Linked DNA regions of Homo sapiens. The protein of the gene in region 3 interacts with the protein of the main gene of each other region in a biochemical or structural test. Each region holds a gene or a part of one and is shown on either strand. Other genes may lie near its edges. The genes, in order: UBR5, MNAT1, SUPT5H and CCNT2.

What was found.
Region 1: of the proteins of SUPT5H (region 3) and UBR5, one has a biochemical effect on the other in vitro, tested with the Homo sapiens proteins (one study listed by BioGRID).
Region 2: of the proteins of SUPT5H (region 3) and MNAT1, one has a biochemical effect on the other in vitro, tested with the Homo sapiens proteins (one study listed by BioGRID).
Region 4: of the proteins of SUPT5H (region 3) and CCNT2, one has a biochemical effect on the other in vitro, tested with the Homo sapiens proteins (one study listed by BioGRID).

Annotation. Positions count from the first base shown.
Region 1 is NC_000008.11:102,402,685-102,409,712, forward strand, and holds part of UBR5 (E3 ubiquitin-protein ligase UBR5), read right to left. Parts: intron 1-7,028. UniProt on the Homo sapiens protein: E3 ubiquitin-protein ligase involved in different protein quality control pathways in the cytoplasm and nucleus. Mainly acts as a ubiquitin chain elongator that extends pre-ubiquitinated substrates.
Region 2 is NC_000014.9:60,807,748-60,814,775, reverse strand, and holds part of MNAT1 (CDK-activating kinase assembly factor MAT1), read right to left. Parts: intron 6,452-7,028; coding exon 6,348-6,451; intron 2,790-6,347; coding exon 2,649-2,789; intron 1-2,648.
Region 3 is NC_000019.10:39,448,573-39,455,600, reverse strand, and holds part of SUPT5H (transcription elongation factor SPT5), read right to left. Parts: intron 2,246-7,028; coding exon 2,080-2,245; intron 1-2,079. UniProt on the Homo sapiens protein: Component of the DRB sensitivity-inducing factor complex (DSIF complex), which regulates mRNA processing and transcription elongation by RNA polymerase II.
Region 4 is NC_000002.12:134,949,794-134,956,821, reverse strand, and holds part of CCNT2 (cyclin-T2), read right to left. Parts: intron 4,182-7,028; coding exon 4,111-4,181; intron 3,593-4,110; coding exon 2,174-3,592; 3' UTR 1-2,173. UniProt on the Homo sapiens protein: Regulatory subunit of the cyclin-dependent kinase pair (CDK9/cyclin T) complex, also called positive transcription elongation factor B (P-TEFB), which is proposed to facilitate the transition from abortive to production elongation by phosphorylating the CTD (carboxy-terminal domain) of the large subunit of RNA polymerase II (RNAP II).

The DNA.
Region 1 (7,028 bases), on a different chromosome or scaffold from region 3:
TAAGGCCATCTCTGGAGTTCCAGGTTGTCTGTGAGGTAGACCTGGTATCTGAATTCAAGTAAAGACCTGGAATACCTCATCGCCTGAATTCTGAACAGCAGATTCATGCTGGAGCAGAGCCAATTTCTTGAAACGGCAGGTTCTCGACACTTCTATATCACAGAAATGGAGCCTGAACTCATGGGGAAGAAAATAAAAACTTATCTACTGATCCATTCATCACAGTGCTTTGTCGACTAGCCACTATCATCATCTTTATAACTAGCAATCTAGAATACAACCATTACATTTAATGGAATTCTAAAATATAATCTTTTTACATATACTAGTATGTTTTTTAATTAACACAAAAATTTGCTGTCAAGAAAAATCTAGGTTTTTATTATCAGTGGACTTTTCCTATGAAAAACATTGTGATAAATTGAAGCCAAGAAAAACTTCAGGCCAGCCATGGTGTCTCCTGCCTGTAATCCCAGCATTTTGGGAGGCCAAGGTGGGAAGACAGCTTGAGGCCAGGAGTCTGAGACCAGCCTAGGCAACACAGCAAGACCATGTCTCTAATTTTAAAGAAATAAATAAGGCGAGGCACAGTGGTTCATGCCTGTAATCCCAGCACCTTGGAGAGGCTGAGACGGGATAATTGCTTGAGCCCAGGAGTTCGAGACCAGCCTGGGCAACACAGAGAGACTCCATCTCTACAAAAAATTAAAAATTAGCCAGATGTGGTAATGCAAGCCTGTAGTCCCAGATACTCAGGAGGCTGAGGCAGGAGGATCGCTTGAGCCCAGAAGGTCAAGGCTGCAGTGAGCCATGTTCACATCACTACACTCCAGCCTGGGCAATAGCGCAAGAGCCTGTCTCAAAAAAAATTAAAATAATAAATAAACAAGAAAAAAATAAAGACTAGAGAATAGCTAGAAAGAGTAAACTACCCAAATTTATATCAGCTAGAAAGCAGATTTAAAAACTGTGGTACAGTCATGAAATAAGTACTACTTTTTTTGTTTGTTTTGAGACAGAGTCTCACTCTGTTGCCCAGGCTGGAATTCAATGACACAATCTTGATTCACTGCAACCTCCACCTTCCCAGGTCAAGCAATGAAAATACTACTTTTAATATAAAAGAAGAAACTACTACATGCTGCAACACAGATCTGTTGCAAAAGCACTGTTCTAAGCAAAAGAAAACAGACACATGATTCCATTTCTATGAAATTCAAAAAGGAAAAGCATTACAGTGAGAGAAAGCAGAACAATGGTTGCTAGGTAGCCAGGACCTAGCCTAGGGGGAAGTGACTGAAAATACAAAGGGAAACCAGGTAACTTTTTGGGGTGATGAAAATGTCCTGTACCTGGATTGTGGTGGTGATTACACAACTGTACACATTTGCCGAAATTCATCAAACTGTACACCTAAAATGGGTTAATTTTACTGAATGTAAAGTATAACTCAATAAAGATGAAAGAGTCAAAGACATTTTATTAAGTGATACTGTCAGAAATTGAACAAATAACAGTACTTTAGCTGTGCAAGTAACATAAATTGTGTATTTACAAGTAAAATAACATTAAATATTAATACCTTCTTTAATATCCTGACAAAATGACAATGTTACAAAGCATGGTTATCTAAGAATTTATCGTATTTCTAATTTGGAAGGGGTTTTGTTACCACTACACTGATTGTCTCAAGAAAGTAATAAGAAATATGATCTCAGAGAATAATTTCTTATAGCCAAGTTCAATTGACTAATACCTCACCTGTCTATTAGTTCATGAAAATGCTGCAAACTTTTCACATGACAATCTTATTTCTCAAAGTGACCCCATGGAAAAATCACTGAATTTCAAGAATCCTGTCTTATCATCCTTATCTAACAATTACAAGTGACTGCTGACAAAAAATGCTGTCATACCGGAGGTTAAGAAGTTATAGCACTGAGGCCTGGCACAGTGGCTCACGCCTGTAATCCCAACACCCTGGGAGGCTAAGGCAGGTGAACACCTGAGGTCGGGAGTTCGAGACCAGCCTGACCAACATGGTCAAACCCCGTCTCCACTAAAAATACAAAATTAGCCAGGCGTGGTGGCTCACACCTATAATCTCAGCCACTTGGGAAGCTGAGGCAGGAGAATCACTTGAACCCGGGAGGCGGAAGTTGCAGTGAGCAGAGATCACGCCACTGCACTCGAGCCTGGGCAACAAGAGCGAAACTCCATCTCAAAAAAAAAAAAAAAAAAAAAAAGTTACAGCACTGAGCTTTAAGGAACTAAATAATTCCCCAGTGGCCCCTTCTTCTAAGGTTACAATCCAAATTCTAAGGTTATTCTACAAATGTCAAATTTTTTAACATGTTAGAACCCAATCAGCTTTATTAAGTAAAATTATCAAAATTGTCAATCAGAAATAAGCATTTATGAGACAACAGGAAAATCTGGGCAATTTTGTTATTAAGGTTTTTTCAGGTTTTTTTTTAAAGGCTTCATATTTTGAAATATATAGTGAAGATACAGCAATTAAATTACCTGATAGAGGAGAATAAATGGGGAGAGAGTTGAAATCAGATTGGCCATGAGTTGACAACTGTTAAGACTGTGTGATGGGAACATGGTTGTTCATCATACTATTCTCTCTACTCTTGTATATGCTTAAAATTTTCCAAAATAAAAGGCTTAAAAATAATACTCAGGGGAAAACTTAAAAACCAGTTCTAAAAATAAACCAACAATTCATAACCACAGTGAGCCAAGAGAAGAGGCTATTTTCACATGACCAGAATGCCAAGGAGTCAAAATGACAGAAACATGGATGCTAACTAGAGTCTGTTTTCTTAATTAGAAATATGTATAATATGGGCGAGCGCAGTGGCTCCCGCCTGTAATCCCAACACTTTGGGAGGCCTAGGTGGGCAGATCACGAGGTCAGGAGTTCAAGACCAGCGTGATCAACACGGTGAAACCCCATCTCTACTAAAAATACAAAAATTAGCCAGGTATGGTGGCGTGCGCCTGTACTCCCAGCTACTCAGGAGGCTGAGGCAGCAGAATCGCTTGAACCCGGGAGGCGGAGGTTGCAGTGAGCCAAGATTGTGCCAAAATGGCACCACTGCATTCCAGCGTGGGCAAGAGCGAGACTCAAAAAACAAAATAAATATGTATGATAAAATGAGGGAGGGGAGACATTAAGTACATCCTCCTGTAACATAAAATTGCTTCCTTTAATATACCTTATAAGATCTACGTCCATGTAACTCAGTCTTCAGCAATTAAATTTTCCTTTGGAAACTATTTCCTAAATAACCTAATGGTCTAATTGTTAGGGGAAAAAACCCTGACCTTTCCTAATTTCACCTATTATTCCTAGTCGTATTCCTGTGTATCCTGTAATTTTCTTCACAAGTGTCTGTTTATTCCTAGGCCTATGATTCAGTCACAGATATCCTGATTTATAAAATTGCTCTGCCTTTGTTTTGATTTTCTATTTTGCTTGGCTATTCTACACCCTGCTGTTAATCTTACTTAAGCAAATTCATTTAAACATTTTAGTTAGGCCAGACTGTACTTTTCCAATACAATAAATCTAGTATTGGTTTTTTATTGTTTGTTTTTGGTTTTGTTTTTGTTTTTGAGATGGAGTCTCGCTCTGTCACCCAAGCTGGAGTGCAGTGGCGCAATCTTGGCTCACTGCAACCTCCACCTCCCAGGTTCAAGCAATTCTCCTGCCTCAGCCTCTTGAGTAGCTGCAACTACAGGCATGCACCACCATGCCCAGCTAATTTTTGTATTTTTAGTAGAGATGGGGTTTCACCATGTTGGCCAGGCTGGTCTCAAACTTCTGACCTCAGATGATCCGCCCACCTCAGCCTCCCAAAGTGCTGGGATTACAGGCATGAGCCACCGCACCTGGCATAATGCATTTAGTATTGCTTTTAGGTAACAATCTCAATAATCAAATGGTGAGATTTTTCACTGATTTGGTAATATGATGCTCCATCCCACACAACCTAATGTCTGGGGGGTTTTTTTATTGATTTTTTTGTTTTTTTGTTTTTTGGTGCACCACAATAAAATTTCAAGCAGCTTTCAACTATTATAACCTCTACTCACCACAACCTTTGTTATGCTTCATATAATCCCTGGCATATTTTCTGGCTCCTACTGAGTGAAGATATGCCTGAGTCTTTAAAACCTCAAAGTTCTTAATAAACATAATGAGCACTCACTGAATGCCAAGACTTGTGCAAAAACACACTTTCTATGCCAACACTATCCAAGAGAACTTTCAGTGATGATGGCACTGCTCTGTATTTGCACTGTCCAATGTGGTAGTGAGTAGCTACGTGGCACTACAGTGCACTTAAAATGTGACTAGCTACAGATGAAGTGACTTAAATTTTTATTTAATTTTAATCAATCTTAATTAATTTTTTTTTCCTTTTTTTTGAGACAGAGTCTTGCTCTGTCGCCCAGGCTGGAGTGCAGTGGCGCGATCTTGGCTCACTGCAACCTCTGCCTCACGGGCTCAAGCTCTGTCTCACAGGCACAAGCAATTCTCCTGCCTCAACCTCTTGAGTAGCTGGGATTACAGGCGTCCACCACCACACCCAGCTAATTTTTGTATTTTTAGTAGAGATGGGGTTTCACCATGTTGGCCAGGCTAAGGGGTCTCGAACTCCTGACCTCAAGTGATTCGCCCGCCTCAGCCACCCAAAGTGCTGGGATTACAGGCATGAGCCACTGGCCGGGCCTTAATCTTAATTTAAACAGTCATGTTTTAAAAATTAAGAATATATATTGCGGCCAGGTACATTGGCTCATGCCTGTAATCCCAGCATTTTGGTAGGCTGAGGCAGATGGATCACCTGAGGTTAGGTTCAAGAGCAGCCTAGCCAACATGACGAAACCCCATCTCTACTAAAAATACAAAAATTAGCCAGACATAGTGGTATGCGTCTGTAACTTGGGAGGCTGAGGAAGGAGAATCGCTTGAACCCAGGAGGTGGACGTTGCATTGAGCCGAGATCCGGCCACTGCCTCCAGCCTAGGAGACAAAGCAAAACTGTGTCTCAAAAAAGAAAAAAAAAAAGAACGTATATTGCTTGAAATATTCTTCATAAAAGTCATTTTCACTTATTTTTACAACCAAATGCATTGAAGATCATCTAGGATGGGCTTCCTTAACCTTAGCACAACTGACATTTTGGACCCCGTAATTCTTTGTTGTGGGGGCTATCCTATGCATTATAGGATGTTTAGCAGCATCTCTGGCCTCCATCCACTAGAGGCCAGTAGCAATGCCCCAGCTGTGACAATAAAAAATGTCTCCAGACACTGCCCAATAAGGGGAGGGGGTTGTGTGTGGAGGGTGCAAAATCACACCAAGCTGAGAAGTACTAATCTAGAACTAAGAGTCGATTCTGCTCTGAATGCTAAGGATATTCTAGGGCAACTCTTTTGAGTTCCTGCTTTGCTATCTGGAAACCAGGCAACACGTAAAAAGTTAAAAGTAACCATCTCTTCGTAATGTTTTCCGTAGAATCCACATTATAATATTGATCTTTTCCCATCTACTGTCTCAACTGTTCCTCCCTGACCTTGAGGAGAGTGCTACACCTAATTCAGAGATTGATGTGGGGGGTTCTAAGAGGTTAAATGACTAGGCTACCAGCGCAGAGTTTGAAACTCCTGTCTATAGTATCTTACCTTGTGTTATGACACCTGAAAGGGAAACTCTAAGCTTAGAGAAAAATCCTTTTGATATGACAATCTCAATAAAGACTGTTTATGACTGCACAATACGTTGTAATGCCAAAAGGCAAATCTCACAGGAAAATTCCACATACAGACAAGCAATAAGAACTGGTTTGTTTCGTAACTAACCTGCATCTTGAGGAATAATTCAGGACAAGGACAATAAATGCCATAACCACATCACCTTAAGAAGACCTATCCTAACCTAGTACCAAGAAAAGGTTAAGAGCGTCAGCCTCTGAAAAAAAGGCATAAACCCATTAGGAGCCCTGGAAAGAGCAGTTGAGGGGAAAACGGAATCAAAACACTAAGACAGGTGGCCACACTGCCTGAAGGCTGGGATGTCTGAGACAGCAGAACCATTCTGGAATACAAGCCACGTGAAGTGGAATGGAGCCCTGGACTTTAAAGAAAAGTCAGAAGACCCATCAGGTGGACCTCAGCTGTCTCTCAGTAGTTGTATCCCTGCATAAACACTGTAAATCTCTGTGCCTATTTTTTCAGCTCATTAGTGAGGCACTTTCCAGGCTATTAGTGAGGCAGGCCTTTCAGCTCTCCCCTCAAGCTCGACGAACCACATTCTTTATATTGTTTTACTGTTTCTCTGAGACAATGTTTTAAGCAGGAACGTAGTACTAACTCAAGAAATCCATTGGAAAGGAGATCAAAATGTCCAAAGTATCTGAGCACTGAATGGTTTCAATTCAGCTCAATGAATATTTGCTTGAGGGCCCAGCATTCTGTGCCAGGCACCTTGTAATCATTCTGGGAAGTCACAGCCAACATCCTCTTCTTTCCACCCCAGCCATCCCCACCTGTATTTGTCAATTTCATCCTGGCATCATTATTATTCATTATTGGCAAGTCTGAAAACACAAATTATGAAAAAAAGATACTTTTTTATGCTTTGTACATTTTAGACACTTGAGACATCAGACTATGATGCTGAACAAAATATTTGACTTTTTAAGAGGATGTGGGTAAAGAAAGAAAACGTATTTGAAGAAAACACTACTGTTTTGAGGACCAAGTTTTCTTCAGCTGAGCAATTTATTTGCAGTACCATTCTGCCTGTCTAATCTTACTACTTTTATTCCAAAGTATAAAGTCTATTTACACCCTTTTCATACATAACTATGATTATCATTTTATTTGTGACTCTCATACATTTCTCATAATAAAAAAAGTCAAGCTACAGTAGCAGTAGCTTTTTTATTGCCCCAACTTACTAAAACTTGGTAAAGTTTTTATCTTTAGATGAAAATACGCTTATTCTA
Region 2 (7,028 bases), on a different chromosome or scaffold from region 3:
TTAGAGCCAAATTCACATTCCAGTCATAGAAAATAGAGTTTTATGACAGTGTTTTCTATCTAAGCCTCATGAATGCCCTTACCCTTATTTTTCCTTTAGTTTCTCACCTCCTTATAATTTAAGTAATCTTGCTTTCTCTTTTTTTACTCCTGGTTAACTGACTTAAATGCTTTTTTGGCAAAAGCACAGTAGAAGAACACATATATACATATTTTCCCCAATCATAGGATAATAGCATTATCAACTAGACAAGAAAGTTAAGTGTATTAACACTGCATACACACACACACACACAAACACAAAAGCCTCAGGGAAATAAATTATATGAACATAAAGGGAAAGAGAAGAATGCAAAAAGACTTTCCTGGAGAGGAAGATTTTCCGGTTTGTGAAGTCATCAATATCATACAGGGTTATAAGTATCAAATAATATAGTAATAAATCCATGAAACACTTCATAAACCTTAGTTATTATTACTGTCATTATCTAACAAGGTTGACTACCTAGGAAGCTAATTGCTGGAAAACAATAATTTGCAAAAACCCCGCTATTTCTTTCAAGCAAAAATACACTATTTTTTTATGCAAAAATATAAAATATATTGTCACAAAGTAAACAGTCAATATAAACTTCAGCATGGAGCCAAAATGAGCTCATTATTAGAAAAATAGTATTAATCAGGAGAAAAGTGCTTCAGAAACAATGTATTTTAGTCAGTTAGCTTAAAGCCATATAAACAATCTATCAAGAATATACTGGCTCATCTCAGTTATAATGTCACTCTCTCATCTGAAAATAAAATGGATATTAAACAAAAATCTTTTTAAAAATATAGAAGTAAAATATACTAGAACCTCATTTTAACATCGTTCTTAGAGTTACACAAAGTAAGTAGTGCCATGTCCACAAACAATACTCTTATCTAGGAAATCACTTTAAATCCTTCATAGTAGTTGGCATGATATAAATAAATAGGCATAAGGGTAAGACAAACTACAATATGAAAATGAAAGTCATTTTCATAATTCTTATCACTAAACTCACATTGGGATAGAGACTGAGTATCCCAAATGAATTTATATTATGCCAAATTCTAGAAAAACATAGTTTTCCCCAGTACATACTGTGTGGACTAAAGATGGCCATCACACTCCCATTAGGAGGTGAGATCTATATCCATTCCCTTTGTAACTGAGTGGGCTCTTTTACTAATATGGTGGAATCAGTGCTGTGCCAGTTTCCTAGCCCAAGCCCTAAAATGTTAGCATCTTCTACCTCCTTATTCTTGGGATATTCTCTCTTGTAACCCTGAGCCAACATGTGAGAAGTACAATCACACTGTTACAGAAATTGATGCAGTTTCTGATGTAGTCAGCCCCTTCACTAGATTCACGGTAAGGACTCCCCTCTACTAGACCCACTGCACTCAACTCTATGTGGGAGGGAGCACGTGGGTGAGTCAGCGCAGATCTAGCCAGCTGCTCCAAGCACCAATACAGGAACAAGTTTTGCATGGGGCCCGCAGTCAGACCAGACACAAGCAAGCAAGTGCAGGACCCAGCCATCCGCCCCAGGCACGGACACAGAAGCAAACTCTACGTGGGGCCCACAGCCAGACCAGGCATGTTGCCTCAAGGGGAACATGGCAGTGCCCAGGTGAGGGGGCCCACAACCCCAAAGCCCCAGGGGAAGTGTTACAGTGCTCCTTTAGTTCTGCCATCAGACAACAGTGTGTTGGCAGCTCAGTTGGCTTCTGGCCTTGTCACCTAGGGCAGCTGCTCTCCACCAGGAAGGGCAAAGTGCCAGTGTGACAGCCTTTCTGGGTACCCACACTTGGTGGGTCCCAAGCTCTTGTCTGGCATCCAAGAAGAATGAGGTCACAGGGATGGTTAAAAGATGGCGAAGGTGATAATTTTATTGAGCGATGAAAACAGCTCTTAGCAGAGAGGGGAGCTGGAGAGGGGACAGGAAGAGCAAGTCGTCTTCCCCGAAGTCAGGTTGTCTCTTCCTCTACTTACTGAGTCTGGGGTCTTTATAGGCACAGGATGAGGAGAATGTGCTGAATTAGCTTATGAGTAAGCAAAAAAGGTTGAAGTGAAGACACTACTCAAAGATGGGCATGACAGTGTAGAAAACCAATTAGGAAAGGGTAGATATACATAAAATAGGTGAAGAGTGGGGATCAATCAGAGGAAAGCACACCAAACAGGAGGACAAGTTCTCAATCTGGTCCAAGGATTTAACTTGTAGCTTGGCTTTCAGGTTTTAAACTGTCTTCAACATGGAGATGGGGTTTCTCTGGGTACCCGTCCCTATCTGCCTAGGCATTTGGCTGCCTCCTGTCGCTATCAAAACCACATGGAGAGGTGTCCTGAGAATACATTAGGGAAGCAGAAAAGCCCAAAAGAACCACTTAAATTCCTAACCCACAGAATTGTGAGCATAAAAACATATTGTTCAGTGTGGATGGAGGGCAACCTCTTATTCAGCAATAAATACACTGATATCAATACATAACCAACAAAACTAAAGGTGAACCAGATTACAAACACTGTGGAAAAGCCCTTTAAATGCCATCATCCAGCCTACTAGGAAAGGTAAATCCTGAAGAATGTTTTTTACAATCACAATTAGCATTAATACATACCAGCTCATCTAAAAAAGCCTGCTTATTCTTCCTTTTTAGAATCTGCTGCAGTTGTTCTTCTTTTTGTATAAATAATCTTCTTTGTTCATTTTCCTGTCGTTCCACTTCTAAAGCTTCTTCCAGTTCTTCCTGTTCTCGAGTCTAAAACAAAAATTTATATATGGCGTGGAATAAATTTAGGAGCCAAGAGCAATCATATACCACACTCTAATACTTTCTTTATTGGAAGCATAAAACACACTAGTCACTTATTATTTAATAATGTAGCAATTCCATATTGAAGAAAATAGAATTTACTTTATTTCATGTAGACACGTTACTATTAAATAAAACAACTATTCTGTTATACCATACTAGTGGAATTTTGCTATACTAAGGCCACTGGGAACATATTAAGGGAATTTGAGGGATGAGTTTAGAAAGATGACTAGAGGCAGTAAGGTATACATAAAGATCAATTGGGTTCAAGACTGACAATAGGAGGACTAGTTAGAAGTATATTCAAATAACCCAGATAAGAAATAAGAGCCCTACGCAGCGGCTCACACCTGTAATCCCAGCACTTTGGGAGGCCACGGCGGGTGGATCACAAGGTCAGGAGTTCGAGACCAGCTTGGCCAACATGGTGAAACCCTGTCTCTACTAAAGATACAAAAAATTAGTCAGGCATGGTGGCACATGCCTGTAATCCCAGCTACTCGGGAGGCTGAGGCAGGAGAATCGCTTGAACCCAGGAAATGAAGGTTGCAGTGAGCCAAGTTCACACCATTACACTCCAGCCTGGGCAACAGGGCGAGGTTCCATCTCAAAAAAAAAAAAAAAAAAAAAAGAAAGAATAGAAATAAGAGCCCTAAATAAAGTAATAATCTAATTAGAGTGGGGATGAGGCTTAAAAATGATAAGGAGTGATCATCAACAGAATATAAAGACTGACCAAATATGGATTGAACACTTGGATGAATGCTGGCACCATTCACTGAAACAAAGAGCATAATAAGAGACAAAATAGACTTTAATTAAAAAACTGTCAAAAGAGACAAAGAACATTATATAATGATAAAAGGATCAACATATAGAAAGATATAACAATTATAAACAACTAAATATGTAAAGCAAACATTGACAACTGAAGGGAGAGATAGACAGCAATATAGTAACAGTAGGAGACTTAACTCACATTCAGTAATGGATGGAACTTTCAGAAAGAAGATCAGTAAGGAAATAGGAGTCTTAAACAACTTTATAATTCTGTATATTTCTGTTATAACAACTAACAGAAATATACAGAACATTCTACTCAACAGCAGCGGAATACACGATCTTCCCAAGCACACACAGAACTTTCTACAGGATAGGTCACAAGTTAGGTCACAAAACAAGTCTTAACAAATTTAAGAAGACTGAAATCATACCAAGTATCTTTCCTGACCACAATGGAATAAAACCAGGAATCAATAGCAGAAGGAAAACTGGAAAATTCACAAATATGCACATATGTGAAAATTAAACAATACACTCAAATAATCATTGGGTCAAAGAAGAAATCAAAAAGGAAATTAGAAAATACCTCAGGACAAACAAAAACAAAAACATAGCATACCAAAACTTGAGGGATACAAAAAAGCAGTACTAAGAAGGAAGTTTCTTGTGATAAACACCTACTTTAAAAGAGAAGAAAGATCTCAAATAACAACCTGGCTTTACATCTCAAGGAGCTAGAAATTTAATAACAAACTGAGCTCAAAGTAAGCAGAACAAAGGATTAAAATAAATAACAAACATTAGAGCAAAAATAAATGAAATAGAAAACAGAAAAAGAACAGAAAAAATTAACAAAATTAAGTTTTTTCAAAATATAAAATTGACAAACTCTTTGCAAGACTATGAAAGAGAGAGAAGACTCAAAATCAGAAATGAAAGAGGAGACATTACAACTGATGCCACAGAAATAAAAGGATCATAAGAGACTACTATGAACAATTATACACCAACACTTAATTATATTACGCTTCAGTTAATCTAGAAGAAATGGACAAATTCCTAGAAACATACAACCTACCAAGACCAAATTATGAAGAAACAGGAAATCTGAAAAGACCTAGAACTAGTATGGACACTGAATCAGTAATCACACCTCCTAACAGAGAAAAAGCGGCAGTGGTGAATTCTGCCAAACATTTAAAGAAGAATTAATATCAATCCTTCTCAAACCTTTCTAAAAAATTGAAGAGGGAGACACTTCCAAACTCATTTTATGAAGCCAGCATTATTACCCTGATACTAAAACCAGACAAAGGTACCACAAGGAAAGAAAACTGTGAGCCAATATCCCTGATGAACAAAAATGCAAAAATTCTCAACAAAATACTTATAAACTGAATCCAACTGCACATTAAAAGGATCATACAACATAACCAAGCAGGAATTATCCTTGGGATGGAAAGATGGTTTGACATACAAAATCAATTAATATACATTAACAAAATAAAGAATTAAAATCACATAATCATATCAATACATGCAGGAAAAGGCTTTGATAAAATGTAACGCCCTTTCATGATAAAAGTGGTGGCTCACATCTGTAATACCAACACCTGGGGTTAATGAAACATTTTACCTACGCATACCTATTTTGCATGTATCTTCTGATGTTCCCAGAGAAGGTTACTAGGCAAAGAGAGTAACATTAATGACATACTGATGCTCTCAGAAATAAGATACTTTTAAAAGAAAGCTAGGCTAGCTATGAATGGAATGAAAATGTAGTATCAATTCATTGAGAGTTTTACAGCAGGAAAGAAATGCTGATATAAAACACTATAAGACTACAAGGAGGAAGTCTCTTCTAAATACAAAATGAAAATATAAGCTATGTGATCCAAATATACTTGTATCCTTTTCACTGATTATTACAAAATCCTGATAAAGTATCTCAAACGTAATTACCTCTGCTTTCCCCTACAACTAGAAAGCCAAACTGTACTATAGAAATGATAGCTAAAGTGTATAAATTAGACAATTGCTCCTTTGCATGCATACAATTTTTTCTTTATAGAATACATTCTAATACATATAATAATAATGACTCCTGAGATATTTTCAAAACAAACTTCAACATGAGATCAACTAAAACAAACCAAAATCATATTTATATCTAGCAATGTTACTCTTTCGGTAAAACAAAAAAGGTAACTAATTGAGAAACCAAAGTTAACCTTAGTTTACAAATGTGTTCCTCTGATCTAATCATGAATTCATTTTAGTTTCTAATAAATAGTGTTTTTGTTTTATCTCCCTCTTGGTAGCTCCATCACCGTCTGTCTGGGTTTTCTCTCTCCTTTAGAGAAATTAATGTCCAAGGATAAAAATGAGCCTCCAGTGTTTTGTGACCACTGTCCAAATGCTCACTTACCAGAAGATTATACAGGCAGATAAAACTAGCGTTAACAATCACCTATCTTACGGATCCACTTCCTTAAGAAAGCACAGTCTAACATAATGCTGTCAAAGTGGTTTTTGCTACAGTAATGTGTGCCTGCCTACCTACATACCTATACAGCATATATTCATATTTCTGGTCTAAATTTCAGCTAAATTTTCTATAAATGTAACTGGTTTAAAGGAAGATGGCTTTTTAAAGTATCATGTGGAAACATTTGTTTCTAAGACAAAATAAGAAGAAAATACTTAGCAACCGACCAGCTTTAATTTATTTTTCTGAATAACATCTTTGTTTTCCTTTTGGTATATCTCCATTTTCTTTTTGGTGTTGTCCAAATCCACATTGTTGGTCAAGTTGAAAACTGCATTAGAAAGGAAACGATGACATGAAAAATATTTTTAATATAAATCTTGAGTAGACAATAAAAAACAAATACCACAGTGACTCATTTGTTAGGTTGTCATTCTTTATAGCTCTATTTGTGACCTTTTAATCAGCTACCTATTTTAGAGACTAGCTCTAGTTACGGCAAACATGTTTTCCAAGCCAAACACAAGGACAGACTGTCTGACTCGCACAAAATACCTAAATGTCAGGATCACTCCAGAAAACCTAAGATATGTGCTTAGATCTGATTTTTATAGTCCCCTCTCTAGCTTTAAAAGCATAAAAAAATTGTTTAAATTTTTTTAATATAAAGAGTAAGTCTGGAATCTACTACAAGAATCAGAATTTTAAAAAAAGAGTTAAAAAATCATATATTTTTATAATTTATATCAAACAAAAAACAGGTTTTATCCCCATTCCAATTGTCTCCAACATGAGTAGACACAGGCTTGAATTACTTCCCTTGTAGTCTAGCTCTAGAAACGTATGAAATAAAGGAGTTGGAACTTAAGAAGAAAAATAAAGGATAAACTGGCACCAAAACTTAAAGT
Region 3 (7,028 bases):
CCACCCCGCCACCACTATGTTCCCCCCATGTAATTTTTTTTGTTTAGACCGAGTCTTGCTCTGTCACCCAAGCTAGAGTGCAGCAATCTCGGCTCACTGCAACCTCCACCTCCCGGGTTCAAGCAATTCTCCTGCCTCAGCCTCCCAAGTAGCTGGGATTACAGGCGCCCGCCACCACGCCCAGCTAATTTTTGTATTTTTAGTAGAGACAGGGTTTCGCCATCTTGGCCAGGCTGGTCTCGAACTCCTAACCTCAGATGATCCACCCGCCTCAGCCTCCTAAAGTGCTGGGATTACAAGCATGAGCCACCACGCCCAGCCCCCACGTAATTTTTTTAACACACCGTTCTGTACCTTTCTTTTTCTCAAAACTACTACTAACTCAGAGCTCTCCCACAGCAGCACATGCCTCATATACTATATGGCCCATAATTTGTTTAACCAGGCCCTAATCATCAATAAACATTTAGGTCACCAAACTTTTGCAACTGCGAACAGGACTACAACAAGCATCTTTGTTCTCAGGTCTTCATGCACTCATGCAAGTTTAACCATAAAGTAAATTCTAAAGAGGAACTGCTTGGTCAAAGGGTTCCTGCATGTTAAATGCTAACAGGCACTGCCACACAGCCTTCCACACAGGCAGTGCCCACCAACACTTCCACCACCAACATATGGGTGTCCCTGGGAACCCACAGCTTTTACCCAGCATGGTATCCATTCTCTTGCTCTCCAAGAACATCCAGAGCACCTCCTGTCCCTTTGACAATAAACTACTTTTCTTCTCAGGTAAAACAGTCCCAGGAAAACAGAGGCAGGATGTGTTCTAAGTAACCCCTCTTCCCATAGGTAAGGGAAAACATGCACATTCATTATCATCATGGAAGTATGAACTAGTCTTATCTTTTTAGGAACTGATATTTGGCCGTAAATATAAAAAATCTTTTTTTAAAAAAAGTGCGGCCAGGCATGGTGGCTCACGCCCGTAATCTCAGCACTTTGGGAGGCCAGGGCGGGCGGATCACAAGGTCAGGAGTTCGAGACCATCCTAACACAGTGAAACCCTGTCTCTACTAAAAATATAAAAAATTAGCCAGGCATGGTGGCACGTGCCCGTAGTCCCAGCTACTCAGGAGGCTGAGGCAGGAGAAACAGTTGAACCCAGGAGGGAGAGGTTGCAGTGAGCCATCGCACCACTGCACTCCAGCCTGAGCGAGACTCCGTCTCAAAAAAAAAAAAAAAAACAACGACAACAACAAAATGCACCACCTTTACCTAGCAATTTGACTAACAGGGATTTAACACGTAGAACAGAGATTTTTCATCTGGGGTGGTCTGTGTTCGATGAAAAAACTACAGCTCCTATTTTCAGTAACCTGGAATTGAAATTTAGCATTTACATCAATTACATACAATGGCAACAAACCACACAATGTTAGCTGTGTCACTGGCTCTTTCACAGCACATTACAGCTATAGGTATCTCAAGGCAGCATTTACACTCACTGCTACTTGAAAATTAGATTCTCAGACTACCTACAAAGTCTTATTACCTAAATATGTTAACAAAGAAACATATGCACCAAAATGTTCTTTTTAAATATTCTGATAACTGTACTTCAATAAATTGTCCTCTTTGGAATCCTATGTATTTTGTTTTATGCATTTCAGAAGATGATTCTGAGAAGGGAACAGGGTTTCACCAGACTACAGAAGGGGCCGTAGCACGAGAAAAGTTAAGAACTTTGGTCCTTCACGCCTGTAATCCCAGCATTTTGGGAGGCCAAGGCGGGCAGATCACGAGGTCAGGAGATTGAGACCACCCTGGCTAACAAGGTGAAACCCCGTCTCCACTAAAAAATAGAAAAAATTAGCCGGGCGTGGTGGCGGGCGCCTGTAGTCCCAGCTATTCAGGAGGCTGAGGCAGGAGAATGGCATGAACTTGCAGTGAGCCAAGTTCATGCTACTGCACTCCAGCCTGGGCGACAGAGCGAGACTCCGCCTCAAAAAAAGAAAAAGAAATGGAACTAAAAGTAGAAGCTCAGCCTCTGCTCGGCACTGGCCAAGCACTATGACATACCAGCCTCGTCCAGAATGAAGCCTCCATGGCGGGGTTTCTTGGGGGGTCGGTCATCATCTTCTTCCTCCTCTTCCTCATCGTATTCCTCCTCCTCTTCCTCCTCCTCTTCGTCCTCAGGCTCTTCTTCTTTCTCACTGCCCGCTGCACTCCGCCGCTCTTCGTCTACCTACAGGGGTCAGGCAGGGTTGTAGCACCAGAATTCTGCTACCCCAAAAATCCAAAAACCAAGTTCCTCACCCTAAATCTGACCTCAGATTGGCCTGGCCAATCATAGCCCACTTTGCTCTGCATATATCCCTTTCACTCTAGCCTGGCCTCTCTGGTTACCATCCTATCTCAGCGACAGCACTGCCATCTCCCCAGCCACCCAAGCAACCCTGGGAGTTGACCCGGGCTTCTCCCTGCACTAGACCTCTTGCTCACTTTCCACCGAGTCTTTAACTATAATAGCTTGATGAAGCTTGGTCCTTGGGCCTCATTTCTTTCTCTCTCTTTTTTTTTTTTTTTTTGAGACAGAGTCCCACTCTGTCTCCCAGGCTAGAGTGCCATGGCAGAATCTTGGCTCACTGCAACCTCCACCTCCTGGGTTCAAGCAATTCTCTTGCCTCAGCCTCCTGAGTAGCTGAGATTACAGGTGTGCGCCACCACACCTGGCTAATTTTTGTATTTTTTTAGTAGACACGTGGCTTCACCATGTTGGCCAGGCTGGTCTCGAACTCTTGACCTCAGGTGATCCATCCGCCTCTGCCTCCGAAAATGCTGGGATTACAGGTGTGAGCCACAGCACCTGGCCCATCTCTTCCCATTCTACAACTCCCCAAGGCCATCTCGTCCTCTCCCTTGGCGGTGGTGGACATCTCTGTGACAGTGACTCCCATCTCTGTTTCTAGTCCACACTGCTCACGAAGATCACTGGCCACCCCTGTTGCTAATTCTGTGGCCATTCTGTATTCCCTACCATCCCAGCAGCATCTGGCACCCCAACCATGCCCTCCCTGGAGAAATGCTCCTCTCTTGGCTTCTGCCGTATCATGCTCTCCTGGTTTTTCTCAAAACTCCACCAGCTCCTCTTCAAGCTCCTCTTACTGTTAACCCCTTCAAATCTGACATCAATTACCAGGGCTCAGTCCAGGGCCACTTTGTTCTCCCTCCATGCCCTCTCTCCCTGTCCATTTTACTTTCCATGACCTCAGTTCCTGTCTCTAGAGATGACACGTGTCCTCATCTGTCTATAGAGTCCCACTTTTTTCCAGAACTCAAGACCTCCATGCACCAGCAGCATCCTGGATGCCTCCCCTAGATGGCCTCTGAGCCCTTTCATACTCACTGTGTCCCAAACTGACCTCAGTGTCTTCCCCTAGACCTGTGATGGCCTCCTCCAATTACCGACAGGCACCAAATCCTCATCCTTTCTGCCTGTAAACATCATTTCTCCAACCCATCCTTTTCCCCCAGCCCCATATATCTGAGCCTAGGCCAGGACACTGCCCTCTAACACCTGGATCCTTACCCCAGCCTCCTCCCTACTCTCCTGGCCTCTAATCCCTCTTTCCATACCAGAAACAACATTAATGGATGCATACCAAACTTCAGTCTTTAACTCATGAACTTCACGACTTCTTCCATGTCATTACTACAATCCATTTACCTAATACAGGTTGAACATCCCTAATCCAAAAATCTGAAATCTGGTCAGGTGCAGTGGCTCATGCCTGTAATCCCAACACTTTAGGAGGCCAAAGCGGGTGGATCACCTGACATCAGGAGTACAAGACCCGCCTAGCCAATGTGGTGAAACCCCGTCTTTACTAAAAATACAAAAGCTAGCCCAGCACGGTGGTGGGCACCTGTACTCCCAGCTACTCAGGAGGCTGAGGTAGGAGAATCGCTTGAAACTGGGAGGTGAAGGTTGCACTCAGCCGAGATTGTACCACTGCACTCCAGCCTGGCCAATGGACCAAGACACTGTCAAAAAAACAAACAAACAAAAAACTGAAATCTGAAAGGCTTCAAAATCTGAAACTTTTTCAGCACTGACATAATGCTCAAAGGTCATGCTCAGGCTGGGCGCGGTGGCTCGCGCGGATCACCTGAGGTCAGGAGTTCAAGACCAGCCTGGCCAACATAGTGAAACCCCATCTCTACTAAAAATACAAAAAAAAAAAAACCTAGCCAGGCATGGTGGCACGCCTGTAGTCCCAACTACTTGGGAGGCTGAGGCAGGAGGATTGTTTGAACCTGGGAGGCACAGGTTGCAGTGAGCCAAGATCGCACCACTGCACTCCAGCCTAGGCGACACAGCAAGACTCTGTCTCAAAAAAAAAAAAAAAAAAAGGTCATGCTCAAAGTAAATGTTCACTGGAGCATTCTGGATTTTCAGATTAGGGAACGCTCCACAGCAAATATTACAAAATCAAAAAAAAAAAAATCCAAAATCTGAAACACTTCTTGTCCCAAGCATTTTAGATAATACTCAATGTGTATTTTCTTCAAATCTACTCACCTTCTTAAATAAAAACATTTTTATATTATGCAATGTTTCAAAATTTAAAACTTTTTGAAGGTTTGTCATAAACACAAGGTAACTATAAAGATAAAAGCAAAACAATGTTATTAAGACCCAGCAAGATACTGCTGCCTGCTGCAGGCTCTAAGCCTAAGGCCTGTTCTCCCACCCAGAGGCGTTCAAGACACAGTAGCACTAAGATGAAACTTTCTCATGACCCAATCAAGATAAGACACACAACTGAAAAGGAAATATTCTCACTAAATGATTCAATGTAGCTTAAGGTCTTGTCCTTATTCCACCTAAAAGCACCTTTCATCATCCCCAACCTAGAATATATGGTACAGTCTTAGAAAACTGTAATCTAAAACATGAACCTGACCATTTGTTCCCCTGCTCAGCTTCAGCCAGCCTGAACTAGAAGCACATGCTCTGCCTGCTGCCTCTCCCCGTTCCCCACCATTCAGGACTGCCTCCCCAACACTAGGCCTCAGCTGCACTCAACTACTTGGACCATACTCTCTCAGTGCTGGCCATCATCCATGCTGGTTTTCTGTATAAAAAGTCCCCTCTGGGCCTGGGCGCAGTGGCATGCGCCTGTAATCCCAGCTATTCAGGAGGCTGAGGCAGGAGAATCACTTAAACCCAGAAGGAAGAGGTTGCAGTGAGCCGCGATTGTGCCACTACACTCCAGCCTGGGCGACAGAGTGAGACTTCATCTCCAAAAAAAAAAAACTGTGCCTCCCATTCACACTTCAACGAAAATATTCCCTCCTTAGCTAGGCATGGGGGCTCACACCTGTAATCCCAACACTTTGGGAGGCCAAGGTAGAAGGATCACTTGAGCCCAGGAGTTTGACACCAGCCTGGACAATCTGACAAAGCCCTGTCTCTACCAAAAATACAAAACTTAACCAGGCATGGTGGCAAAATCTTGTTGTCCCAGTTCATTGGGAGGCTGAAGCAGGAGGATTGCTTGATCCTCAGGAGGCTGAGGCTGCAGTGAGTCGAGATCACACCACTGCACCCCAGCATGGGTGACAAAGTGAGACCCTGTCTCAAAAAAAAAAAAAAAAGGCTTAGCGTGGTGGCTCATGCCTGTAATCCCAGCACTTTGGGAGGCCGAGGTAGGCGATCACTTGAGGTCAGGAGTTCTGAGACCACCCTGGCCAACATGGTGAAACCCCATCTCTACCAAAAATATAAAAATCAGCCAGGTGTGGTGGCGCACCGCTGTAATCCCAGCTACTCAGGAAGCTGAGAGAGGAGAACTGCTTGACCGTGAGGTGGAGGCTGCAGTGAGCTGAGATCGTGCCACTGCACTCCAGCCTGGGTGACAGAGCAAGACACCAAGACAAAAAAAAAAAACCAAACTAACCTTCCTCCTCCAGGCAGCCATCCCCGCCCCCTCTCCCCCAGGCAGAGTCAGGCACATCCTCTATGCTCACAATTCTCTGGGCTCCCTCCATCACAGCCCTGACCACTGTGAGCCTCCCAATAGTAGGGCCCAGTCCATCTCAGGCACTGCTGGGTCCCCCAACATCACCCAGCCCAAGGCCAAGCACAGAAGACTTCAGAAATATTTGCTTAACACAAATCTCGACTAGCCCACGATGAAGCACATTTTAACAACCCAAACTATGACAGGACCACAGGCTGATTTCTAGGAACCTTGTCATCAGTTCCCCTCTGACAGGTCCCAGAGATGCCTCTTTCCAAACCTGGCTCCTCCCTCCCAGTGGAGGATGCCCCCACCACTCTCTGCTCACCTCAGGGCTTGGATGTGCTCTCACCGTCCTCAACATCCCCTGCAGTAACTGTGTATCTATAAAACTGCCTCTGCCTTGAGACTGAGATCTCTGTAAGGGAGACTGTGACCCCAACATGCCAAGTCAAGGAACATTTGTTTTTTGTTTTTTGTTTTTTGAGATGCAGTCTCGCTCTGTCTCCCAGGCTGGAGTGCAATGGTGCGATCTCTGCTCACTGCAAGCTCTGTCTCCTGCGTTCACGCCATTCTCCTGCCTCAGCCTCCCAAGTAGCAGGGACTACAGGCACCCACCACCACGCTAATTTTTTGTATTTTTAGTAGAGACGGGGTTTCACCATGTTAGCCAGGATGGTCTCAATCTCCTGACCTCGTGATCCACCCACCTCAGCCTCCCAAAGTGCTGGGATCACAGGCGTGAGCCACCACACCCAGCCAGAACATTTGTTGAATGAATAAATGAACAGGTTACTGGAGCCATGATGGGTGAACCAGCAGCTCCCCTCAAAAGTAGCTCATTATTTGCCATCCCTACCTGTCTAGCCACAGAACCCTGTCCTTCAAGGACCATGTCATCATTTGGCTGTCTGAAAAGGCCATCCAATCCTGTCCCTGGCAGTGGGGACAGGCCTCACAGTGCCCTCTTGCCTCACCTGGTAACTGAAGAGGAGCCAGCGG
Region 4 (7,028 bases), on a different chromosome or scaffold from region 3:
ATTCACACATCTCAAAACAATTCTGCAAATTCTTAGTGAAGTTTAACTATAGTCACAGACCTTAAATATTCACATTGTTTTCTATGTCTACTGAAAATAAGTTCACTACTTTTCTGGATATTCTTTACAAAATCTTATTAAAATTCCTGGTATTATCACCCCCAATTATACAGTAGCACAACCACCTTATGTAGTTTTTACATGATAGCTCTGTAGAGGTTTCACATCTAAATTACCAAGAAAGCCCTTCCCTCCCTCATCTTGCACTCAGCTTAATTCTATACTAGTCCTTGGATTATGTACCACTGTAAAAGTATAACTGTATCAAAATTACCATGTTTATGGATACAATATTATGCCATACAGAGCAACAAAGTTACATATAATGACAAAGATTACTGAAGTTATGCAAGACCAGAACAAATGTTAGGACATGCTACCTAGGCACAGTCCCTACAAAGAGGCTCCTAAGTACCCCAAGTTCAAATAACATTGACAAAATAATGAACAATTATCTTTAAAAATTATAAAGCTACTGGCAAATTAGGTAATTGCTAAATAAAGGTAGAGCATGAGATTAAACTCTAATATTTACAACTGCAACATACTTAATTACAATTGTGCACGTATCAGTGGCTTTGTAACAAAAATACAGAGAAAAAATTAAGTTTTCAGTTCAACAAGAGGTCGAATCCAATCAATCTCAAATATACTCAACAACTCAAAAGATTTACCACAGAATAAATTCAAGATTAGCTGATAAACAAGAGCCATATTACTGGTGTTTAAGACAAAATCTAAACAAGTTAAAATCTAATGCTTGATCAGAAGTCAGATGACTGTGCAAACTTTACCTCAACAGAAATATACTGAGATGTGCAAACAAATGTAAAACCTCCACTACTGGTTTGCCTGGGAGGCTGACCTTTTCTTTCTTACAGAGCTTCCTGATAACCATAAACTATAAATACAGGTACAATGCACAGTCAGTAATCTTTTCTTTTTTATTTATTGTTAGAATATAAAAGAATTGAGAGCATAGGTTTAATTTCATTTTTATAAGGAAGACTACATTTACCTGAAAAAGAAATATGGCATCACACACAAACACGCTTCAGGGAAGGAGTATATTTAAGAATATGGTGTCATTCTGAATGCTAAAGGAAAAGTGATCCCTGTTTACTATTAAAATATGTAGTGTAAAATTCTTTAAAGGAAACAACTCACTAAATCTCTACTAGGTAAGTTATTGTGAATTTAGTTTTCAAATCACAGTAATCCACATAACCATTATTAACAGCTCTGTTTCATAGAACTGCAACAAGCCAACAAACATTTAAATGCACTTCACATCAAGAGTATGTAAACTTTATTTTTTCCTCTTCAAGCCTTCAGAAAGTTAGGGGCTATTTCAGCAGCCAATCTGGTCAGAACCTCTGAAGGCAAAATTTCAGTGCCTCACAGTGTATATGACCATCTGTTGCACTGCACACATCTGGTAGTGAAGTGTCCCCTATCAGTGGCTTCCAGTAAGGCCTAGAGTTTAAGGTTAACATAAAAAAGTGCCACCTTTGTTTTAGATTAGTGATGGACTCTGACAAGATAAAATAAAGTTATTCTGTATATTGTTATACTTACAAGCAGCTCCAATCCTGAGTATTTACGGTAATATCTAAACATACAAAAATGTATGTACATTTTTCTCCACTTTCTTGTAAACAGTTGTCAGTATACTGTTTTATCCCTTTATCATTGAAACATGCAAATCATACATACAAGTATAAATACACAAAAGAAAACAATTTACACTCATTCAAAAGCCAAGCAACAAAAAATAGCTACAGTATTCAAATCATAAATAATGAATGCTTGAGGCATCTTATATTCCTAGAAGCAGCCAGCCATTCATCCTAATGTTCTTAGCTGCAATTGTAGAAATACTGAGTTTTGCACCTTCCATGCTTTTACAGTATTTATAACACTATCATATGTGGAGATAAAGACTTGTTTACTATAATCTCTTCTTTTCAGAATGAAGAATAAAGCAGCACTTACAAATATTGAAGCAGTGGCAGCAACAGCAGGGGTTACCACTGCTAGATCAGAAGGAATTTTTCCATTCTAACAATTTTTAAATTAAAAAAGTAAAGGAAAAATTGACCTAAACAAATTATTACATGTTCATTCCTTGGGCACTTAACAGTGAGTCCAGCATGTCGAATGTGTCTTTGTAGTCCATATGCTGGCTGCTTGTACTGTACTCGTGATTGGCATCAGGACCGTTGGTCTCCACTGGCTTCTTGTCCAGTTTCACGAGGGTGCTGAGATGTCCGTAGCCCACCTGGTATGTGACAGGGGGAGGAGGGGGTAAGGGATGGTTAAAAACAGAGTTGTGAGAGGATATATACTGCTTAACAGAGGAGGAAGAACTAGATGAACTACCTGAACTTTTGGAACTTTTGCTCATTTTGGAGTGGTGGTTGTGAGATGCATCATTGACATGCAGCCTCTTCCTTGAAGAGCTGGAGCTAGAGGAAATGCCATCACTGCTCAGGCCAACAGGACTCCTCAGAACAGTGGGTGGTATTCCGTCGGCACTGTGTTTACTGCCACCGCTGCTGCTGCCACTATGCGAGTGGGAATGCTTGTGGCTGCTGGTGTGGTGGCGGCTTGAAGGATGCTCCTTGTGCTTCTCCTTATGGTCTCTGCTAATATGTGGGCTTGAATGTTTGCTCTTCCCACTGCCTTCATCAGAAGAGCTGTGTCTTTCTGAAGAAGAAACTTTTATTTTCATTTTCAGTTCTTCTTTACTGGCGCTTTTATCAGTGGGTGGTATTGGAATCCGTAATTTCAGTGACCCACTCTTTTCCTTTTTGTCTGCCATGTATTTTTCAGTATTTGCGATAGGTATTTTCATTTTAATGGGAGAAGTAACAGAACTGCTGCTGGCTGCCTGTGACTGCCCTTGTTTGTGCTGCTGTTCTACCTGGGCAGCTATATAATGATCCCTTACATCGAGATCAAGAGTTTCTAGTTTACGCTTTTCTCTATATTTATCTAAAGACATTTTCTGAGGAATTATTCCTGGAGTAGTGGAAATTGGCCCATGGTGTTTACTGCTCCCTGCTTTATGAGTATATTCTTGCTTAACAGAAGAATGATCTGAAATTTTGTCAGGTCTGTGATGTAATCCTGAATGCAGTGATATAGAAGGTCCCTGCTGGAAGTTGATGTTGTACTGGCTACCAGACAAAGATGTCTCCTGTTTCTGTGAATATAGCTGTTCTGTCCTTGCTGAGTCTTGATGTTGAGGCCATTCCTGGTGTGATGATAAACCGTATGAAGTACTTGGCATTCCTGTTGCTAGCATTGACAAATTATCAGATGTATGGCTGTCTTGAACAGAAATATTTCCTGAATTTAGAGGTACTGGCGCAGGGAATGCTGATGTAGATGGTTTCTGAAAACTTGGGTTTGTAGGCACACCAGTGACACTATCTACTAAAATGGAATTCTGGACCAAAGATGAACCAAGAAGTGGTGTCTCTGATACCTGTCCATCTACTTTTGGTTTCCTAGCTGCCTGATTAGCCTATTAAAATAAAACACAGAAGAAGCAGTGATATAGCAAAATAATTTAATGCAAATTTCTTGTCTTATAAAAGTTATATATTAAAAACATTATATATTAAACATATGGAAATAAAATGACCTGGGGTTCAAGATTTTATGTTGTCAGTAAATAAATGCCTTAGAGGCATAAAAGGCTATAAAAAATTGAAAACACCCATTTTAGAATCAGATACAAGTTAAATCCTAGCCCAGCACTTCAGAAAGTAATTTAACTTGTCTAGGCTTCAGTTTCCCCATTTGTAAAATGAAGAGGATACTTTTGTCATAATCACTGCAAAAAATTTTTTAAAAGTATAATGTACTTTAGCAAAGTCCACTGGACTCAGTAGTTGAATATGTGAGTATATGTAACTTGAGATACGTTGAATTATTCAGGAATACTGCAAAGATTATTTAACCACAAAAATTCAAACTGGTTAGCTATGTAAATGTTACATAAAAGACTGAAATTCTGTTAAACCCTGTCAATTCTCTTACCCTCCAGTTTCGAATCTTCTTCAACCTATTAGGCGTTTTCTCCAATATTTGTAGAAACTCATGTGTTAGCTCTAAAAATAAAATTTAAATTTGAAACTTAGAAGGTGCCTTTAGGATTTAAATTTCTCTTAAGTGGGCAGTATTAAAAAGGAATGCTAGGAGTTCATCTACTTCACTTTTACCCTCCTATTAAATCCTCAGCATACACAGAAGTACACACAACTCTCAACCGGCATTTTCAAAGCTGAATCCTTTTGTAACGATTACTTTCCCTCTTGATTTTACTTGCTTAATTAGAATCTCTAGAAAATCTAGTAGCATTAAAAATAATCACCCCCCCAATAAAAAAAAAATCTTCATTAGGCAAACACCACAATAATTTTTGTCACAGACAAGATCTATCAAAAGATTCTTTAAAATTAGTGGACAAAAGTTTGAGGAAAAACGTTATTTGTATAATCCCAACGTATCTTCCCCATGAAATGTATTAATTACAAAGAGAAAAAAAATAGTGACTTTAAAGTGCAGAAACCACTTTAAGGATACCACTGTAACCAAGTGATCACGGTTGTCATGACCAGTTATAAGACGTATCAACATACTGTACCCCTTGATATGATGCACCAAGCAAGACCCAATTTACTTCTATGGTATTCTTGCTCAAAATGGATAACTTCGACATAATAATGAGAAATCATCAGACAAACCCCAACTAAGGAACACTGTATAAAATGACCATTATTCTCCTAAGTGTCAGTGTTATGAAAGACAAGGAAAGATTGGAGAACTGTCACAGACTGGAGAAGACTTGAAGGGACATGTCAACTAAATGGAACATGGGATCCTAGAATAGGGAAAAATATGGAATACTGAATAACATCTGTGGTTTAGTTAACAGTATTGTACCAATGTTAACTTCCTAGTTTTGATAATCATATATTGTTATGTAAGATGTTAGTACCAGGAGAAGCTAAAGGGTATACAGGGAACTATGCAATATTTTGCATTTCTTTCTTTCTTTTTTTTGTTAAATAACAGAGACAGGGTCTCGCTATGTTGACCAGGCTGGTCTCAAACTCCTGGCCTCAAGTGATCCTCCTATCTTGGCCTCCCAAAGTGCTGGAATTACAGGTGTGAGCCACCACACCCAGACTTTTTTTTTAAAGGGGAAAATTCCTCCAAATATACTTCCTAGCTATCAACACTATTAATATATTAGCAAACTATCTTCATTGTAAATTTCTACCAACTTTCTTAAAATTCTGATTACAATCAAATGACCCACTTTTCCAAAGTAGTGTGGTTTTGATGAACTAATAATGTCATTAATAGTTACTAGCCACTCTCAAATATTCATCAGTCAAATACATCAGAATATTATATAATATTAATAATGCCAATTCCACCTCAATACTGGGGGAACCTCTATTAATAGAGACTACAGGTTCATTTTGTAATAGCAAGCTTTTTTGTAAACTATTCTAAGCCAATGTTAAGATCGACACTTCAGACAAGCTATAATTTAACCATTAATCTTTCAAGATGTAATTTCCTTGACAATGTCATGACTAGTCCCTGCTAAAGTCTCATGAGCTTTTTCATCCAGTTTGGATGAAAAAAACCCTAATGCCCAGACCTTTACTTCCTCATTTGAAAAAAAAAGAAAAAAAAAAAGACTATTTTTCTACTTTTGGGTCCAACATTAACAAAACTGTTTTGACTCAATTTCTGTTAACAACTTGGTTGTAAAACATTAAATACACTTCAAGTTCTGGTCCAAAATCTCGTACACAAAATGTAAGCTTTGTTTTTCTTAAGTATCCTACTGTATTAAATTTTATAGCAGAACAACAAAAGAATCTGTTAAATAATCCATTAACATAATTAATTAGCTATATGCACAAAAATCACAGTATGTGCCTAAAATAGAGGCCCTTCTCTCTCAAAGCTACTGTCTAAGCCAATGTTCTTTTCTGGAACACAATCATTAAGTGAATTATTTCAGTAAGTAATAAGAATAGTAGTATCACTTCACTCTACAATTCAGATAAATCTTCATGTCTTTTTTTTTCCCCCCAGACAGGGTTTCCTCTGTTGCCCAGGCTGGAGAGCAGTAGCATTATCACAGCTCACTACAACCTTGACGTCTCAGGCTCAGGTGATCCTCCCACCTTAGCCTCCACAGTAGTTGGGTCTATAGGAGTGCGCCACCATGCCCGGTTTGTGTGTATTTTTAGTAGAAACGTGGTTTTGCCATGTTGCTCAGGCTGGGCTCAAACTCCTGTGCTCAAGATATGTGAGTGACTGCACCCGGCCACACCTTCATGTCTTTAATTTTGAATTGCCTTTTTGTGACTGACACAGAAAAAAAAGCTGCTGCAAAACATGGTGAAAGTCTTAACATATCAGTTCTCCAAGATTCCTATTCAATTGCTCTCCAAATTAACAAACTTTACTTTTCAGAATGGAAATGAGGTAGCTCCTCCTGTGTCAAAAAACCCCACATAAACCACAACCTAACCTCTGACCTAAAGACAGGATAAAAGGCAGATTACTTTTCTGTGATCTTTTTACTTCAGCACCAGGTATATAAACTATTTTTATTACGATTATGCCTACTGGCTGGGTGTGGTGGTTCACGCCTGTAATCCTAACACTTTGAGGCCAAGGTGGGTGGATCATGAGGTCAGGAGTTCAAGACCAGCCTGGCCAACATGGTGAAAACCCTATCTCTACTAAAAATACAAAAATTAGCCAGGCGTGGTGGCAGGCACCTGTAATCCCAGCTACTCAGGAGGCTGAGGCAGAGAACTGCTTGAACCCGGGAGGCGGAGGGTGCAGCGAGCCGAGATTGCGCCACCGCACTCTATAGCCTGGGCGACTGAGACTCTGTCCCCCACCCCCCCCCCGAAAAAAAA